Linked DNA regions of Homo sapiens. The protein of the gene in region 2 binds, or shares a complex with, the protein of the main gene of each other region. Each region holds a gene or a part of one and is shown on either strand. Other genes may lie near its edges. The genes, in order: H2AX and PAXIP1. A codon is read from its position in the direction of its gene.

What was found.
Region 1: the proteins of PAXIP1 (region 2) and H2AX are in contact, whole or in part, in a crystal structure (PDB 3SQD), measured with the Homo sapiens proteins. Residues at the interface, in NP_031375.3 of Homo sapiens: Phe871, Thr872, Gly873, Phe874, Pro876, Lys907, Thr909, Arg910, Thr911, Val912, Lys913, Pro986, Glu1050, Leu1053; in NP_002096.1 of Homo sapiens: Gln138 (codon at 5,540), Ser140 (codon at 5,546), Gln141 (codon at 5,549), Glu142 (codon at 5,552), Tyr143 (codon at 5,555).

What each region holds. Positions count from the first base shown.
Region 1 is NC_000011.10:119,093,374-119,100,522, reverse strand, and holds H2AX (histone H2AX), read left to right. Parts: upstream 1-5,057; 5' UTR 5,058-5,128; coding exon 5,129-5,560; 3' UTR 5,561-6,649; downstream 6,650-7,149. Other genes in the region: DPAGT1 (UDP-N-acetylglucosamine--dolichyl-phosphate N-acetylglucosaminephosphotransferase), read left to right, coding at 115-261, 2,036-2,120, 2,480-2,668, 2,972-3,059, 3,226-3,525. UniProt on the Homo sapiens protein: Variant histone H2A which replaces conventional H2A in a subset of nucleosomes. Nucleosomes wrap and compact DNA into chromatin, limiting DNA accessibility to the cellular machineries which require DNA as a template.
Region 2 is NC_000007.14:154,996,837-155,010,287, forward strand, and holds the start of PAXIP1 (PAX-interacting protein 1), read right to left. Parts: upstream 6,289-13,451; 5' UTR 6,094-6,288; coding exon 6,013-6,093; intron 4,704-6,012; exon of another isoform or gene 3,244-4,703; intron 1,949-3,243; coding exon 1,814-1,948; intron 1-1,813.

The DNA.
Region 1 (7,149 bases), on a different chromosome or scaffold from region 2:
GATCCTTTCTGGTAGCCCTTCATCCTATCGTCCGTCCTCACCACTTTTCTAAAAATTCTTAAATCCTCCTCCCCTAGGTGGCACTACTTCTTTTCCTACCATCTCTCCCCGCAGGAATCCTGTACTATGTCTACATGGGGCTGCTGGCAGTGTTCTGTACCAATGCCATCAATATCCTAGCAGGAATTAACGGCCTAGAGGCTGGCCAGTCACTAGTCATTTCTGCTTCCATCATTGTCTTCAACCTGGTAGAGTTGGAAGGTAGGTGGGATTGGGGGTGGGGAGAGAGAAGTCTGAGTGTTAAAGGTGTGGCCTGATATATGACTTTGGGAAATTCAGGGGAAAAAAGCAATATGCATAGTAATTATAGAAGATAAGGGAAGCTACTTACTTTGCAAATAACAATGCAGATTTATTAAAAGTGAGAAAGAAAAATAGTAGCCCTGTCATTTATAGCTGGATTGGCACTAATAGCTAGGCCATGATCTTCTCCCATTGAATATAAACAGTTTCACAGAACCCCAACGTTACACAGGGTCATTCTGTGACCGTGATGGAGCAAGACTAAAACTAGACCCCTCCCTCTGTAATCATGTTTGAGCACAGGCAAAACCACAAGAACACTGAGCAACCCACAAAATGGCCAAGATCCCCTCTCTCGGCTAACATGAGCGACTGCTGCTGCTCTCCAATAACAACTCAGTTCCTACCACTTCTTTTTTTTTTTTTTTTTTTTTTTTTTGAGACAGGGTCTCCCTCTGTCATGCAGGCTGGAGAGCAGTGGCGCGATCTTAGCTCACTGCATCCTCTGACTCAAACGATCCTCCTGCCCCAGCCTCCCAAGTAGCTGGGGCTACAGGCATGTGCCACCACACCTGGCAAATTTTTGTATTTTTTGTAGAGACAGGGTTTCACCATGTTGCCTAGGCTGGTCTTGAACTCCTGGGCTCAAGTGATCTGCCAGGCCTCCCAAAGTGCTGGGATTACACTCTTGAGCCACTGTGCCCAGCCAGTTCCTACCATTTCTTAAATAAACATTAAAATGCTTGATCATAGAATTACTCTTGCTTTCTTTTCTTTTCTTTTTTTTTTTTTTTTTTTGAGACGGAGTTTTGTTCTTGCCCAGGCTGGAGTACAATGGTGCGATCTCGGCTCACCGCAACCTCCGCCTCCCAGGTTCAAGCGATTCTCCTGCCTCAGCCTCCCTAGTAGCTGGGATTACAGGCATGTGCCACCACGCCCAGCTAATTTTGTATTTCTAGTAGAGACGGGGTTTCTCCATGTTGGTCAGGCTGGTCTCGAACTCCTGACCTCAGGTGATCTGCCTGCTTCAGCCTCCCAAAGTGCTGGGATTACAGGCGTGAGTCACCGCACCCGGCCATGAATTACTCCTGCTTTCTAACAGCACCCAGTCCAGAGCAAAACTACTTTCTTTCACCCTCTCCCAAAATACCCAAAACAAACGCTACTACAAGCCCCTCCTAACACCCTCTTACTGAGACATTCCGTGGTTCCCAATGGTGTGTGGTTTCTGAAGTCTCCCTTTTTACAACAAGTCATTAAACCTAGCTTTGAACTATAGATGTGTTTCTGATGGTCTTTGGCTGATGAACATCAACAAGTGTTTATTAAAGCTAAGTACTTTTTAAACACTATCTTATTTAAATCTTGTAATGGTTTTATGTGGCAGATGTTATAATCAGCCCTGTTTTACAGATGAGAAAACAGGCTTAGAGAAGTTAAATGTGTCATGATCAAGATCAAGGTCACAAAGCTAAGAAGTAAAGTTGGTATCCAAACTTACATCAGAATGGGCTAAACCAAATTTAAGATAGTAACTAGTTTGGAAGGCTGCACGAAAGAGGTGGAATATTGGGAATTGCCTTGGGTGACATAAAAGGAGTATTGAGTTCTTAAAAGTGACTTGGGTGAGGTGGATGATAACAGCTGTAAACAGAACTTAGACAAAAATAGGACCAAGGTTTGCAGAGGAAGTGGGTATTAACTTTTCCTTCTTTCTTCCTTGCTTCCAAAGGTGATTGTCGGGATGATCATGTCTTTTCCCTCTACTTCATGATACCCTTTTTTTTCACCACTTTGGGATTGCTCTACCACAACTGGTAAGTAGGCCTGTGGATAAGGGGACAACTACCTGAACACATGGCAAAGATGGCCCTTATCATAACCCACCTTGTGGTGGTGAAGCTAAACCTGCGCATACCTCTATGGAGTTTTCTGCGTCTTCAGTTGGTCGTATTCTGAAATTTCTCTCTACCCAGTAGTAGTTAGGGATGAGTGCGTGGAGGCCCCAGGAATAGATGAATTCAGGGCCTTGGATCCTGCAGAGTTGCTGCACAACTGGAGTCTCCTCTGAGTCAGAACTAGGGTCAGGGCTAGTCCAGTGCCCATAGGGTGTGATGTGAGAGAAGGGATTGGTAATGCCTCTTGCCACTGGCTCGGATCCTCTTCCCCCACACAGGTACCCATCACGGGTGTTTGTGGGAGATACCTTCTGTTACTTTGCTGGCATGACCTTTGCCGTGGTGGGCATCTTGGGACACTTCAGCAAGACCATGCTACTATTCTTCATGCCCCAGGTGTTCAACTTCCTCTACTCACTGCCTCAGCTCCTGCATATCATCCCCTGCCCTCGCCACCGCATACCCAGGTAGCCGCTTTTTGGCTTGAAATGGACATCATAGCCTTTTCACTTGGGATATCTAATGCCAGCCTATACATTTGCTGTGCAAAGGGAGTGGGCCCAAAGAAGGGCTATTTCCATGTGAGTAGCCCTTTATAACTTACAAAGCACATTTATTTGCATAATCTGCTACAGTGGTTCTGATAACAGTAAGCAGCAGAGCCAGAAATAGATCTCAGGTTGACTCCACATTCAATGCTCTTCCTATTAGCCACAGGGAGGAGGGTTCAAATAGTGGCCCAGTCACATGAAGCTATCTTCCCCCCGCAGACTCAATATCAAGACAGGCAAACTGGAGATGAGCTATTCCAAGTTCAAGACCAAGAGCCTCTCTTTCTTGGGCACCTTTATTTTAAAGGTAACAGGGTAACAAGGAGGTAAGGCCCTAGGCTGCCATCCTGACCTTGAGGAATGGGGAACCTAGTCCTACATCAGATCCAAGGGGAACTTGAAAGCATTAAATAGATCCACATTCCTAAAGCATAGGTATTAGCTGAGGTTCTCTTCACCTCTGGTCCCTCCAGGTGGCAGAGAGCCTCCAGCTGGTGACAGTACACCAGAGTGAGACTGAAGATGGTGAATTCACTGAATGTAACAACATGACCCTCATCAACTTGCTACTTAAAGTCCTTGGGCCCATACATGAGAGAAACCTCACATTGCTCCTGCTGCTGCTGCAGGTGAGGATGGGAATCGAGTTTATACCTCCGTGTCTCCCTTTCTGCGTGATTCTTACTCCAGTCCATTTCTCCTTGCAGATCCTGGGCAGTGCCATCACCTTCTCCATTCGATATCAGCTCGTTCGACTCTTCTATGATGTCTGAGTCCCTTGATCATTGTCCTTTACCTCACAGTCTCTAGGATTCCTGACTCAGGCTGACCTCTCTCTCTGGTCCCAGACTGCCTCCTTGCCCAGGCCTCTCTCACTCTTCATACTCCTCCAGATTTTGTTCTCAGCATTTTCCTTTCTCTGTGATCATTGGCATCCTGGGCGTTTCTTGCCCTCTGCTGACTACTGATTGGATTTTACCTATGGCTTTCTGCAACTTGCTACTCTCTCCCTCTCCATCCCATCTTTGCAGCCTCATAGGGTGGGATACAGCAGCTTTTTTTGCAGTTATCCACACTCACATTTCAGAGTCCTGACTCTCAAGGAACCACTGGTTTTTGGGATAGAACTTGGGCCAGGGCTAGGAACACAGGCTCCACGGTGACATGTCATTTGATTGTAAATTAAGTGTTCTGATTAGTAAGAACTAAGCAGGGGGCCACATGCTCTCAATGGAGACAATAAAGTGTTGTCTTTTTCTTATTGTTTATGTAGGTATATTTCCTATATGGGCATTTTTGGGTAGATTGGGAGGGGTGGTGGGGGTACTTCCTCCAACAGGATGCCTATCTCTCTGCCCCATCAGACCCCGTCTAACAAGAAGTGAACAGAACTGAGACCAAACAGAACATATTGAATAAATATTTAAATCCTGATACTAGAGGTGGCATGGAGGGCCACAAAATTGAAGTTATCCTGTTTCCTGGCATGGGAACAAACTTTCAAAGAGTCACCGGGTGCAGTGGCTCATGCCTGTAATCCCAGCACTTTAGGAGGCTGAGGCAGGAGGATTGCCTGAGCCCAGGAATTCAAGACAGCCTGGGCAACAAAACGAGACTCCGTCTCTACAAAAATAAAATAATTAGCCAAGTGTGGTGGAGCACTTGTAGTACCAGCTACGAGGGAGGTTTAGCAGGGAGGATTCCTTGAACCCAGGAGTTCGAGGCTGCAGTGAGCTGAGATCACACTACTGCACTCCAGCCTGGGTGACAGAGCCAGTGACACCCGGTCTATTAAAAAAAGAAAGAAAGAAAAAAAAGAAAACTTTTAAGGGGTCTAATTTCTTCACTTTTCCATTCTCCCTTTGTCAGGTAGGAGAAGGGAGTAGGGAGTGACTGGACCTGGAAAGGAGGGCTGCAGTAGCTATAATATTGACCCCTTTCCTTTAAAAATCCTACGCCGGCACAGATTTCCCAGACGCTCTCTAGGTGGCCTCAGACTCCACCCCTTTGGTCTTCCGCTTCTGGTTTCCGATTGTAGTGTTTAAATCTCGCGCGCTTTACAAGGATTGGCTACATCAGCGGATAGTTGGCAGTCTGCGTGCTACCCCTCCTCCTCGCCTTTTCTCCCCGGGCAAAAGGTTTTCAAATTCGACCAATCAGCGGGCGCGCTCCCTCAGCCGAGCCGCGACACCCAAGGGTTAACCGCAACCAACCGGAGGCGGGTATTGGAGAAAAGAGCCAATCAGGAGGGCGCAGAGGTGTGTCCTGGGGGCTTATAAAGGCGGCCTCGCGGCGCGCGCGCGACAGCAGTTACACTGCGGCGGGCGTCTGTTCTAGTGTTTGAGCCGTCGTGCTTCACCGGTCTACCTCGCTAGCATGTCGGGCCGCGGCAAGACTGGCGGCAAGGCCCGCGCCAAGGCCAAGTCGCGCTCGTCGCGCGCCGGCCTCCAGTTCCCAGTGGGCCGTGTACACCGGCTGCTGCGGAAGGGCCACTACGCCGAGCGCGTTGGCGCCGGCGCGCCAGTGTACCTGGCGGCAGTGCTGGAGTACCTCACCGCTGAGATCCTGGAGCTGGCGGGCAATGCGGCCCGCGACAACAAGAAGACGCGAATCATCCCCCGCCACCTGCAGCTGGCCATCCGCAACGACGAGGAGCTCAACAAGCTGCTGGGCGGCGTGACGATCGCCCAGGGAGGCGTCCTGCCCAACATCCAGGCCGTGCTGCTGCCCAAGAAGACCAGCGCCACCGTGGGGCCGAAGGCGCCCTCGGGCGGCAAGAAGGCCACCCAGGCCTCCCAGGAGTACTAAGAGGGCCCGCGCCGCGGCCGGCCGCCAGGCCTCCCCATGCCACCACAAAGGCCCTTTTAAGGGCCACCACCGCCCTCATGGAAAGAGCTGAGCCGCTTCAGACTGCGGGGCAAGCGGGCCGCGGCTCCCTTCCCCTCCCCTCCCCTCGCCCGCCTTCGCCGCCCGGCCTCGAGTCCCCGCCCGCCCCCGCTCCCGTCCCGCACCGCCTGCCGCGTCGGCCTCGGGCCCTGCCCTGTCCGCCGTCCGCCCTCCGGTAGGGTTCGGGCCTTCCGGATGCGGCTTGGGCGCTCTTCGGGGACCTCCGTGGCGCGGAAGACCCGAGCCTGCCGGGGGGAGGCCGGCGGCGCCGCACCTGCCCGCCTCGGCGTTCGTGACTCAGCCGCCCCATCCCGAGTCGCTAAGGGGCTGCGGGGAGGCCGCAGCACCTTCTGGAAGACTTGGCCTTCCGCTCTGACGCAGGGCCGAGGTGGGCAGTCCAGGCCGAGAGGCCGGCGGCCCTGAAGGTGAGTGAGGCCCTCGGCAGCTGCAGCCGGGGTGTCTGGTACCCCCCCGGCGTGGTGCTTAGCCCAGGACTTTCAGACGCGGCCGCTGGCCGGGAGGCTTTGGTGGGAGAGACGCGATCGCCGATTTCGGTCTGGCGCCCCTTCTGCGGCCGGGACCCAGGCCTTTCACATCAGCTCTCCCTCCATCTTCATTCATAGGTCTGCGCTGGGGCCGGGACGAAGCACTTGGTAACAGGCACATCTTCCTCCCGAGTGACTGCCTCCTAGGAGGACATTTAGGGGAGGGCAGAGGCCTGCAGTTTGGCTTCACGGCTGGCTATGTGGACAGCAAGAGTCGTTTTCGCGGAAGCCGACTGGCAGCCAGGCCTGTCGGGCCCCCCGACGCCGCCCCATTTCCCTTCCAGCAAACTCAACTCGGCAATCCAAGCACCTAGATACCAGCACAAGTCGGTTAATCCCTGTCTGGACTGAGCCTCCGTTGGCTTCTGAACTGGAATTCTGCAGCTAACCCTTCCACGACTAGAACCTTAGGCATTGGGGAGTTTTAGATGGACTAATTTTATTAAAGGATTGTTTTTTTTTTAAATGGAGCGTTTGTTTTCATTTTGCAAGAGAGTTGTAGAATTAGTGACTTTCTATACTTTCCTGATAATAGGGGTGGGAGGGGCCATGCAATATAAACAGGCTCTACTGTTAACTGAAGGGGCAAACCATAGGAATTTAAGATTGTGGCTCTGTTTCTTGGTGTTCCTGGGAGACAATTTATTCTGTGTGAAATGAAAACTATTGAGGCAGAAGCAGAAAGGACGTACCAGGAGAACTCTGGGCAAAAGTCCCAGCCTCTGAGGTAAGGATGAAAGGGCTTTGTGTTTGTTCCTATCTTCCCGCCAACTCCACACGCGCACACACAACACCTTCAGAACTGGTTTATTAGTAGGATTGGTTACATTCAAAGGCTGTTGCTTGGACTTCTCTAAAGAGATGAAGCCCCCACATACTGAGGAGGCAAGGCAGTCATCAAGGCCCCAAGGTGAGGCAAATCCCTGGAAGGCTTGAACCCTGCAGTTCAGTCTCCCGGGGTAATCA
Region 2 (13,451 bases):
ACAAAAAGGTGGTTTGGGGTCAGGCAGGTTTAAGAACTACTTCTGGTAGTTGGCCTGGCAACAATCACCTAGGCCCCAAGGATGTGTTAGAAAGATCACCCTTTCACATAACATCTGCATAAGATATGCAAAGCCGCTTTACTGAGACAATAGCTCCAGGCTATTGTCTGAGAGAAAGAAAGTTTGTAGGAAGGAGAAGGAAGAGACAGAGATACTGTCCCTAAAGCAGTACAAGGAAGCAAGCCAGAGACAAAAACATGTTCCAAAGAAGAGGGTGCCCCAGCTCAGGACCTCATCCAAGGCAGTTTCCGACCCTGGGTACCAGGGAGGTCACCACTTCCCAGCAGCCAGGTGGCTTCTCTGGCCCCGCAATTTGACTTAATGGCAATCTTTCTATTTTTTTCCCTTTTTCTTTTTGTTTAAGAGATGGTGTCTCACTGTGTTACCCAGACTGGAGTACAGTAGCTATTCACAGGTGTGATCACAGTGCATGGCAGCCTTGAACTCCTGGCCTCAAACAATCCTTCCACCTCAGCCTCCTAAGTAGCTGGGACTACAGGTGAGTCCCACTGCACCAGGCTGGCAATCTTTCTTAATTCCTAACACTGTTATTGTTAAACCACAGTAACTTTCATACTGATTTCTTTTTAAGGCAAAGCATTTAATAACATGAAGAGGGAAAAAATGGTAGTGGTATAGAACTATTTTAAAACAAATACTTCATAGGGAAGATCTGAAATAAAATCGAAGCATTGGAATTACAAAATTTAACAAATTTTTAAAACACACATTTTAACAGAAGTCAACTAACTTATCAGCCATAACATAATACAGTAGGTGGATAAACAAAATCTGAACAATTCTTCCACTAGCTGAATCCCTCATTCTCTGCAATAAATTACCCATAGGTCAAGTTGGATACACCCCAGACGACCAGTGGGTAGACAATGTGACTAAAGGCCATTGTGACTCTTGTCAGAAAGGAGTTCCACAACATAGTTAATGGGGGACGCCCTTCAGCTAACTGAAATTCAGAACACCTTGCCACAGTCGGGATGGAAAGTAACCCTGTCCTAGAGTTACCTCCCGACAGGCCTTAGCCTGCTTTTGGAATGAAATACACTCTTACAATAATTCAAACACCCATCTGATTCAAGGCATCAGATCTGTTTCCCATGACAGGTTTCCCTGGCTCAGAAAACTTCCAGGCAGTGGTAACGTGGGACGAGTTCTGCAGCAGGCATAAAGGATGGCCTAGGATTACTTACGACATACAGAAGCCATGCTCTACCTTGGTTTAGCTGAAAGGACCTGAAGCTAAGGGAAGTTACTCAGACGTTAAAGATGTCCACAGTTATCTGGCAACTTTCCACACAAAACAGGACTTTAGGGCCAGCACGGTGGCTCATGCCTGTAACCCCAGCACTTTGGGAGGCTGAGGCAGGCGGATCACCTGAGGTCAGGAATTCAAGACAAGCCTGGCCCAACATGTTGAAACCCTGTCTCTACTAGAATACAAAAATTAGCCAGGCGTGGTGGCAGGCACTTGTAATCCCAGCTACTCAGGAGGCTGAGGCATGAGAATCACTTGAACCCGGGAGGCGGAGGTTGCAGTGAGCTGAGATCGTGCCATTGCACTCCAGCCTGGGCAACAGAGCGAGATTCCAGCTCAAAAAAATAAATAAATAAAAAATAAAAATAAAATAAAACAGGACTTTAGCAAAAACCCTGAAAAGAGCTATAGTGAAACTTCAATGTACTGCTTGCAAGATACTGAGGAAAAGATATAAAACAAATTATGTTTACTACTGACCTTTACAACAGGTAAGTCAAAGACTTCCCGAGCTTCTCCCACCTCTGGATTGTCCCCATCCTCTGAGATTATGTGTGAGGCTAGTGCATTGTAGGAAACTTCCTTCGCTTTTCCAGCCTTGAGAAGCTGAATAACCTAAAAAACAAGAAAATCCACACAAATTAAAATGGGCAATACTGTACTGTACTCTTGAATTACAGAAATAATTATTGGGCATAATAGTACTTTTTAATAAAAACACACCATATTCCCCACATAAAAACTAACAGCCTTTTACTCTGAATAATATGCCAATGAAACTTTCGGGGACAATCAAAAGCAGCAAATCTTGATTCACTGACCAAGTCAATGACCAAGTAATGGAGGCTATTGTGAGTCCAGTAGTGGACATGGTCTGTCCTCAAGACAGATGGGCTGGACAAACCAGGAGACAGCACAACCACTGCTGCGGTGGGGCCACGCACATGGTGCTCCTGAGCTTCCAACTTAAAGACTGGGACATGGGGAGTTTCATAATTAGGGAAAGATTCTGGAAGACAAGATATGTGAGCAGAACCCTCATAAACGTCTGGGTGTTAGGCAAAAATCCATACATCGAGGAAGAGGGAGCAGTGTTGAAGGCACTGAACAGGTGAATACAGAGCAGACCGTAAATGGGCTTTCTTACACACTATGCAAAAAAGTCTGTGCTTCATTCTGGGGTATATGCAGGGCCACTGAAGGATTTCACACAGGAAAAGTAGCACAGATTTCATACAAAGATGACAGTCCATGTGAAAAGAAAGGATTGGGTGGGCTGGCTGTGTTTGGTTGGCTAGATGACTAAAGACAAGAGACCTGTTAAGAAACAAGTGCAATAACCCAGGTGAAAGAGGCATCCACTAAAGTGATGTCCTGATGGGCAGAAAGGAGGAAGATGTGAGAGAATCGGCAAGCCTTGGTGTCTGGAAGGGGTATAAGCAAAAGAGCAAAGTCCAGACTGAAATGGTGGTGAGTACCACTCACTGAGGAACACATCAGAAGGCTGGCAGGTGGGGACACAAGGACGTGTTTTAGTTTGGGCATGCCATTCTTTGGGGGTCGTGTTAATATCTGGCAAGAGGCATCCAGTTGCAGCTAGGAAAAGATGTGGATCTCCCTGACAGAAAGTCATCAGCATTGTTACATAGATGGGAGCCACAGCCATGAGCGTGAAGGTGGTCGCAGTGCAGAATGGGAGGGGAGCTAGAGAGCAGACACAGCAACTGATACTTCAGGGACAGGTAGGGAAGTGCAGTATCACAGGAGAGGAGCGTCAACAGAAGCCAAGGAAGTGAGGGTTAAGGAACAGTCGACAGTCAAGTGCTTCAGAAGAGGTGGGCAGTGTCTAAGCTGACAGTGCACACCAACTGTCAAAGTGACATGGTGCCCACAAAGCTCAAGTGACCCACCAGGGCAACGCTCTTCCAGGTCCCCTCTCTGCAGCAGAGAGCTTTCTTCTTTCACTTATTAAACTTTTGCTCCAACCTCAAAAAAAAATAAAGTCACCCACAAGCTAGACAACCTTTTCAGAATACTTTACCGACCACTAATAGATATGAACTAGAGCAGAGGCTCAATATTTAGTAAGTGAAAAAACAGCGGTCACTGGCCATGGGCCACTTTACCTTTCTTCCTTCCCTTGACCTCTAAGCATTTTTAGCTTCACGCATCCATTCGACTGGTCTTCAGAAAAGGCACCCCTCCTTTTCCTATCCTCCAGTCTGTTTCTGATCCTACTCCCTTCTTCATGAGTTTCCCTGTCCATAGCTATGTTCCCTCCACCTGTAAACAGTAAAGTCACCCACATCCTTCCACGCGCTTGTGATGCAACACAGATCCCTCCCCAGCCCTCTCTTCCTCAGGCACCTTCTCTATTTCCTTCTCAGGACAAACTTCCTGAAGAGTCTAACCTTTCTGTTCTCAGTTTCCATTCACTCTTCAACTCCCTGCAATCCAGCCCCTTCCACCAACACTCTACCAAAAACACTTTACTCGGTTTTCACGAACTTTGAGGATGCCAAAACCAATAGCTTCTCTTCAATCTCCACACTACTGAGTATCTTAATAGATTTATCTCATATCACTCTGTTCCAGATATAGTGATCATCCTGATGTATCCCAAACGCATGAATGCCTTCATTCCTCAGCACATACGCTCCACATGAAAATATTCCTTCATGTTCTTAACTTCTGCTTATCTCAAAACCCAACTGAAATGACATCTACTGAGTGACATTTCAGTGGTGTCTACTTTGCACCCCAGTGGAGAAATCTGCTACACCTTGTACTGTGATATGTCCAGGTGTGCTCCCTCCCCCACCAATGAGGGGCGCTAAAGGGCAGGTACCATGTCCTCTTCACCTCTGTATTATACCTGGCACCTAGTCCATGCCTGCCTCATATTAGATGGTCAACATGTGAACTTATAATCCACAGTCATAAGAGTCAGAGAATCAGATGTCCAGGCTCAAAACTTTTCAGAAAATATACTGTTTCAGATGAAAGTGGTTTGCCAAGGACATTTTTAAGCACTTAGATTTGATTCAAAGTCGAGTAAATATGGTTCCAGTTCAACTTGTTCCAGGTTTTAAGTAACATTTGGTTCAAGTCCCCTATAAGAGCCAAAGTCCTAAAATGAAACACGAAGGCTAGGAAGGAGGGGGAAGAGAAAAATGGTGGATAGCAAAAAACAAAAACAAAAAAACAAACAAAAAAAAGAGGGGCGGGGGAATCATCAATACTGGAAAAAGCTAACACTGTTACAGGCACTCATCTTCATCGCTCCGTGTTCAGCAACTGTTTTACTCTGTAAATTCAAAGATAGAAGGCTTTTTTTTTTTTTTTGAGACGGAGTCTAGCTGTTGTTGCCCAGGCTGGAGTGCAGTGGCGCGATCTCGGCTCACTGCAACTTCCACCTCCCAGGTTCCAGCAATTCTCCTGCCTCAGCCTCCCGAGTAGCTGAGACCACAGGCGCCCGCCACCACGCCCGGCTAATTTTTGTATTTTTAGTAGAGATGAGGCTTCACCATGTTGGCCAGGCTGGTCTCGAACTCATGACCTCAGGTGATCCACCCGCCTTGGCCTCCCAAAGTGCTGGGATTACAGGGGTAAACCCGGCCTTGAAGTCTCTTTACCCTAAAGTTACAGGGCAAAAAGGGTCCAAAAAGTTGTTACAAGGACGAACCTCAAGAAGGCCAAGATCACTCAGCCTTCTACAATTCCTTCTACACCATCCAAGTTCATCTGCGAAATATGAGTCTCCGCCCTTCCAGGCCTAACTCTGATCACTGGGGATCCCCATCCTCCAAGGTGGGGGCCACTGATGTCACACCCAAGGCAACACAACTGTACAGCTAAACTTTTAAGAAGGAAATATTTTGAAGATTAACCTGAAGAGGATATTCAACTAAGATGCATTCCTACCACGGACTGATAACTGTGTGACATCAAACAGATATATTATTATAGGAATACTAAGGAAAACCCACAATATCCTTTGGCGTGAGCCCAAACTACACAAAATTAAATGTGTAATGTGATGGTGTTACCAGGGTACCGTAAAATTAATCGTCCAAGTGGGAAAATCAAGGAAGACGAATGCCAGCCCCCACGTGCAGGGACACAGGCTGGAAGGGAGCGCTCCTCAGCCCCGCACAGGACGGCAGCTGCCCGGGTGGCGGAGGCGGCCAAGCCGGTGCACGGCCACGACCCCCGCCGGCCGAGCGAGGCTGGGGTCCCCGCGCGAGCTGCCCCGGCTGGGGATCCCGGCGCCCCTCGTCCGCCCTCGGAGCTGCTCTCCCGGGAGCCGAGACGCCCGGCGCGGGGAATGGGGAGACGCGACCCCGCGCCCGTCCCGCTCAGCAAAGGAGCAGAGAACGAGGCGGCCCGGTGGGTCGGGGGCGGCGACCCCAGGGCCGCAGGCCGGGGGCTCAGGGCGCGCACTAGGGGCCGAGGTACAGAGCCCCAGCCGCCTTCCCTCCCGCACTCCCCCGGGCCCGGGCCTCCCGCGCCCACCCCGCGGTCGCCCCTGCCCTCAGCGCAGTCAGGCCAGCGGCCTCGGCGGACCCGACGCTCTGCGCCCGGCGCGCGCCCGCGGCAGGAGCGGGGACGGGGACGGGGACGGGGACGGACGGGGACGCGGACGGGGGAGGAGGCCGCGGCAGGGGCGGGCGCGGTACCTGCGGGTCGATGTCGCCCACCGCGTAATACTTGACCTCCCTGAACATCTCCTCAGGAACTTTGGGCGCCTGGTCCGACATGATCGCGGCGGCCCGGGAGGCTCCGCGGCGGCGCCCGGCCCCGCCCACCCCCCGCCCCCGGCCCCCGCGGCGCCCGGCGCCCCCACTCGCCCCGCCAACGGCCCTGCCCGCGCAGCCCGGGCCCGGTCCTGCGAATCGGGGTCCGCTCCCCCGCCCTCCGCGCCCCCGCCCGCGCCCGCGCCGAGCGCCCGAAGCGCGGGAGCCGCGCGCGCCCTGCGGGACGCACCATCCCGCCCCGGCCACCGAGGGGGAGCGCCGAGGAGCCGCCCGGCCTCCAGTGACGCCCCGCGCCTCTGCCGCCAGCCACGGCTCCGGGGTAGCTGGCGCCGGCAGCCCGCTCTGGCCCTTGCGGTTCCGTGGCCGCCGCTCTGCAACGAGGGGGCCCCGAGGACGAGGGGAAACCAGCTCCCCCCTCGGCGGGGCCGGAGTGAGCCGGTCCCGGGGAGGAGGGGAGCTGGCAGGCCCCTCCCGTCGCCACATGCGGCTGCTCGGGGGCGGCGCATGCGCGCGGCGGAGGGGGGGGTGGGGCCTTGGGGCCGCGAGTGGGAGCGGGAGCGGTTCTGCGGCCTCCTCGGGCTTCTTGGCCCTGGGCGGAGTGGGATTGGGTGTCCCGGCTGTTCGCAGTGGCCGCGAGTGCGGCCGGACCTGGAGTAGTACCTGAGCCGCTCTGGCCGAGCAAGGCGCGGGGCCCCGGTCTACACCGCGCTGGACCCGGCTATGCCGTGACGGAATTCCCGAGGCCGTAGCGCCACGCGAGACGCGCACTGGTGGCCTCCGCGGCGAGTCCTGGGGTCTCCGCAAGGCCTCAGTGCCCGAGCTGGGGACGTGCTGGGGGGAGGCCCGGCCCCGTCGCTGCCCGAGGCCCCGCTGTCCCGGCCGGACCGGCCTGGTCCCTGGCGTCCTGTCGGGTCCGCGCTGGAGGAGAGTCCCAGACAGCAGAGCCCGCGGTGCAGCTCCAGCCCCGGGAAGCCCCGCGCTCAACAGGTTAATACTACACAGCGGCGATTCTAATGGTCACGCTTTTATTTACAGCTCGCCTCCCTTCCGCCAAGATTCACAGAACACGGCAGAGTGGCCTCGGGATCACCTGCCCAAGACACCTGCACGACCGGAAGTTGGGAGAAGAAATTAAGGCCATGATGATGAACGCAGCCTTTCTCGTTTATTTCCAATCCCACAACAAACCGGAGTCCAGGAACTCATGGGTGATTATCGGACTATTACCTAGTCGTAAAACTGTGGAGCATTGGTGTCTAAAGGAATCTGAGACAGACCCGCAGTGTCTCCCCCACATGCCTTAAGTCACTTCTGCCAAGCAGAAAATCATTTTTAAGTAAATGTTAGTGAAATTGGTTTTAAAAAAGAGAAGGGGCCGGGCGCGGTGGCTCACGCCTGTAATCCTATCCTTTAGGAGGCCGAGGTGGGCGGATTGCCTGAGTTCAGGAGTTCGAGACCAGCCTGGGCGACACGGTGAAACCCCGTCCCTACTAAAATACAAAAAATTAGCCGGGCGTGGCGGCACGCGCCTGTAGTCCCAGCTACTCAGGAGGCTGAGGCAGGAGAATGGCTTGAACTCGGGTGGGGGAGGTTGCAATGAGCCGAGATCGCGCCGCTGCACTCCAGCCTGGGCGACAGAGCGAGACTCTGTCTCTGAAAAAAAACAAAACAAAACGAGAAGGCTTTCAAAATTACTCTGCGGTACACTAATTTAACAGATTAGATCACTTTCCAGGCTTTAAGTTGGCCTTTGTTCTACCCTTTTTTTAGTGTATGATAAAAGTTGTGTTGGTTCGTTGATCAGCATGCAATGAACTCTGGCTCTTGTTAATCAGGTGACTACAGTTTTGTCCTTACATTTGTATGTATGTCATGAGTGGTTTTGTATGGGCAGGAGGTAAACAACGCACATTTAAATATACTTAATGATTTATCATTCCAATGTTTTCTGGTTGTTTTAGTCTTTCATTTGTCTCTTGAACAATCTGAAACATCCCTATTCTAAGGCTAAAAAATTTCCTTTACAAACTTAGGTTAAACATTCCTAATCTGAAATCCAAAATGCTCTAAAATTCGAATTTTTTTGAGTACTGACGTGACCCCACAAATGGAAAATTCCACACTTGCCCTCATGTGACACTGGGTGACAGTCAAGTCACAATCAAGCCTGGTGTGGTGGGCACCTGTAGTGCCAGCTACTCGGGAGGTTGAGCAGGAGGATTGCTTGAGCCCAGGAGTTTGAGTCCAGCCTGGACGATATAGCCAGACCCTGTCTGTAAAAAAACAAAAACCAAAACAAAAAAAACAATGAAAACATTTTTTTTTAAAACGCCATCAAAACTTTGTTTCATGCACAAAATTATTTAAAATATATAATATAACCTTACCTTCAGGCTATGTGGGTAAGGTAAGGTGTATGTGAAACAAATGAATTTCCCATTTAGACTTGGGTCCCATCCCCAAGATATCTTATTATGTATATGCAAATATTCCAAATCAAAAATATCTGAAATACTTTTGTCCCAAGCATTTCAGATAAAGGTTACTCAACCTGTAATAAAAACACTCAGTGCTTGCCTGAAGGAAAAACCAAGAATTTGTCATCCATCCTTAAATTTTTATGACACCCTTTGTAATCAGGAAACCTTTTAATACCTAAGAATATATTTGATATATTCTGGTATATGTTTATCATTCTGATGTTTAATGTTCTATGTTGGGCATATATCAGTGTAATAAATACATTAGATCCAAATACAGATCATGCTGCCTTTTTATCGACCTGTGTGAGAGAACTTATTTATCCTTTTCTTTTTCTTTCTTTTTTTTGAAACGGAGTCCCACTCTCACCCAGGCTGGAGTGCAATGGCGTGGTCTCAGCTCACTACAACTTCCACCCCCTGGGTTCAAGCGATTCTCCCACCTCAGCCTCCCAAGTAGCTGGGACTACAGGTGCGTGCCACCACACCTGGCTAATTTTGGTATTTTTAGTAGAGACAGGTTTTCACTATGTTGGCCAGGCTGGTCTTGAACTCCTGACCTTGTGATCCTTCTGCCTCGGCCTCCCAAAGTGCTGGGGTTAAAGGCGTGAGCCATCACACCCGGCCCTCCCTTTGATTTTCTTGGTTAAACACAAACTAAGCATGTGATTTTATGTTAAAAGACCTGAAGTGGACCTCAACCAGGTATTTTATTTTGTGAATTAAGAAAGCAATTTGTAACGTTCAAGAGAACAAGCTTACCCTACTTCAGGTTCTGATGGTAAGGCAAATTGCGGGATTAAGAAACCTGCTATTTAAGGCCAGCGTGGTGGCTCACCCCTATAATCCCAGCACTTTGGGAGGCCAAGGCAGGCAGATCACTGGAGGTCAGGAGTTCAACACCAGCCTGGCCAACATGGTGAAAGCCAGTCTCTACTAAAAACAAAAATTAGCTGGGCATGGTGGCGTGCACCTGTAATCCTACCTTCTTGGGAAGCTGAGGCAGGAGAATCACTTGAACCCGGGAAGCAGAGGTTGCAGAGAGCAGAGATCACACCACTGCACTCCAGCTTAGGTGGCAGAGTGAGACTCTAAATAAATAAATAAATCTGCTATTTAAAACCCCATCACCTAGTCAGTATTTGTAAAATATCACACGTGAACTGTGCAAGGCGGTCCACACAAGTGGATCTTACGGCAACAGCATCAGGAAGGCCTGGAGGCAGTGTCACACTCACTCACTGAGTCTCCAATACTACTGCTTGGCCAGTAATGAAAAATAAAAATGTTTACATTAGGTTAATTTCATGTGGATAAAGGATGCTCTGAGGCAGTCTAAAAAACTAGCATCCTGACATCATGAAGAGTAACCCATCTAGCAGAGGACGTAAAGATGGCAAGTCAATATTTAAAGGCAAGCGGTAAACTCAGAAATTATCTTCCCCAAAATGGCCATATGCAAAGTTATAGGAACAAAATATCATGTTGACAGTGCTGTATCTTATTCACAGTTAAATAAAATTCTTATCACTGGTTTTGTGACACTTTAAGGATGACCCATTTTAGGGTGATAGCTATCAGTTTATTAAACAGAAGCTATGCATTTGTTTAATTTGAAGCATATACCACTTCCAAATATGACACTGAGCATTAATATTTTTAGACTTCCCCCAGGTAAATTAAAAGCATGATCATTTTGTTGATAATCAGCCTTTGGAGAATTAAACAGCCTGCTTACTGCCAGTGCTAGTTCAGTAAATATGTTTCTCATTTTCTATTTGGCAAAATTAGATAACCTAAGCCTAGGAAAAATAAAAAATTAGAAAAAAAAAAGTAGATTTGGGGATATTTAACTCAAATTGCCCTTACTGGTGGAAACTCGAGGCAGTTACTTAGATTATTTCCAAATGGCTTTTTTTAAATGTATTTCTATATTGTATACAACAGTCTCAGTCTTCATCTCTCCTGTTCAGCTATCCATACATCCCTTAAAATTAGATATTTTTAATGTTTAGTAAACCTTCAGTTTGGGTTTATAGACAACATTTAACCTTCTCATGAAAGGGTCAGAATACTCCAGTTGCAGGCACAAACAGGCCATAGTTTAGTTGAAGGAGAAACTGCGAACTCAAAGGAGCACTGCTTCTCTGCAGGAAAGATCCCGTCAGTGGACCTGCGGGGCACAGCTGCCACCAGTGTCATGTAGCTATTCAGTGTCGGAAAACTAGAAATCACAAGTGAAGAGAAATTGTAAATTACCTCAAATTCTATGCCCAGAAGCAACCACTATGGAAATCCTTCTAGACATTGTCCCGTATAAATATATTTCCCTAAAAAAAATTATACCCCATACTCTGCCACTTCAAAAAAATCAAGACTGTTTTTCCATGTCAATAAATATCTATATCATTTAATGAATACATAATACTCCCTTGTTTGAATGTACAATATTCTGTATTGTTGCACATTTGTTGTTTCCAATTTAACAATTACAGTACTCCAATGAAGCAATCATCTTAAAATACATGTATAACGTATTATAATGTTCCATCCTTTAAGGTTAGAAACGACGTCCCATACCTGTCTCCCGTCACTCTGAGAACAGTGCGGTAACAGGATCAGCGATTCTCAACCATGGGCAATTTAGCCCCCTATGGCACATTTGACAACGTCTGGAGACATTTTTGGTTGTCACAACTAGGGGGTAGGGGATGCTACTGGCATCTAGTGGTGGAGGATAGGAAGCTGCTAAACATCACGCAACGCATGGGACCGTCCTCCATGACAAAGGACCCGTGCAAAATGTCAATAGTGCCACTGTTGAGAAACCCGGATTAAGATCATGTTGTAACTACATTTCAGTGGGATAAGACTTTGAAAGTTTCCACCGGGCACAGTGGCTCATGCCTGTAATCCCAACACTTTGGGTGCCCGAGGCAGGTGGATCACTTAGGTCAGGAGTTCGAGACCAGCCTGGCTAACATGGTGAAACCTCATCTCTTACTAAAAATACAAAAACTAGTTGAGCATGGTGGTGCGCACCTGTAATCCCAGCTACTCGGGAGGCTGAGGCACGAGAATGGCTTGAACCGGTGAGGTGGAGGTTGCATTGAGTCAAGATTGCACCACTGCACTCCATCCTGGGTGACAGATCTAGACTCTGTCTCAAAAAAAAACGAAAAAGAAAGTTTCTTGCACATAACGCCTTGGTGGCTTCCTTCGGACAGCTTTCTTCCAAATGGGACTTGGCTTCTGTCATGTGGCTTTGTTAGCTGTACAGATGGGGACAAAGCATGTAGAGTATCCTGCTGCAGTTTCTATGGCTGAGCTAGCAAGAGTGGCACACATACCTCCAGCCATTTCCACTGGCCAGAACCTGGTCTCCTGACACCTCCGTAAGCTGTAAAGGAGACTGCTGGGTGATGTGGTCTTCTTACACGTCCAAGAAAAGAAAATGGCATTGATGGTATCTTGCCAATTTTTGCCATTTTTGGTTTTCAAAAAAATTCTTATATGAATTAAGATTAGTGTAATATAAAACAAAATTCTCAAAGATAATTTCAAAAAAAATACCCGTTAGCTACTCAATAGATATTTGTTGAATTTGAGGTTACTGGCTTTATACATAGAGGATTAAGCGTATTCTTTTTCCCGCCTGGCCAAATGGTAAAACCCCATCTCTACTGAAAATACAAAAAAATTAGCCAGGCATGGTGGTGCACGCCTGGAATCCCAGCTACCCAGGAGACTGAGCCACAAGGATCGCTTGAACCTGGGAGGCAGAGGTTGCAGTGAGCTGAGATCATGCCAGTCTGGGCCACAAAGTGAGAGTCTATCTCAAAAACAAACAACAAAGAAACAGCATTATTTTTAAAAAGCAAACACAAGGTAGTTCTCTGAGGCATGTGAGGGATGTGTTAGATGCCTTCCATTTGTCCCACTCCCCATGTCAGATCTGTACTCCATCCTGCTCCACCTTTTTCTCCGCCCCTGGGTGCTGACCTGAGCAGATTATATAAGTAGAATCCCTTGCACATTGGCTTCTAGTTGAATTTGGTCAATGGGGAGTCCCAGCAGAAAGCTGGGCAGTGAGGGGAGGGAGGAGAGAGGTATGACGGTGTTTATTTCCCAGGTTCCTCATCAGGTTGCCTTGAGCTGGCAGAGGAGCCCATTCTATACAACTCTCTCCTTCCAGGTCCTGGGAATCTTTCCTTCCTCTCATCCCTTGGACCTAGGGTGGTGAGGGCTCACCTGCTTCTCCCCACAGGTCCCTTCACTCTCCATGCATCCTGCCTACACCTTTGTAAGTAGTTCCTTGATAAACCTTCTTAGATGATTGTAATTTGAGTGTGCTGCCCCCAGTGGTGACCCTGTTGTGATGGACAGGAAACTCTTACAGGGACAATGAGAAATTCTTAAAATATTGTGTCTGCTCTCAAAAAACTAACAAATACTTGGATGCACGAGCCTAACACTAGTGGGATTCTGTAGAAATGCAGCAGAGATTTAGAAAAGAGGTTCCCATGTGCCAGAATAGCTGGGGGAAACCTCTTGGATGGAGCGGGCTGAGGGGAATAGTTCTTGAAGGGAGAGGAGAAACCACTGAAAAGAGGCCAGAATACTGATATTGCCAAATAAAAGGGTGCACATTTTGGATATTAAATAACTGATGATTTAAGATAGAAATGGGGAGTAATAAGAAATAATAGACTGTGTCTAGCGTATGAAGATCTTGAGACCTCATCAGAGGAAGTTGTTGCATTTGAGACTTAGCATAATTCTGTGGCTGTGAAAACAGAAAAGAAAATTGCTTACCAGCTATTTAAAGTTAAGTACTTTGTGACAAGCTGGCTGTGGGATTGACTGTTTACTCATGTTGTG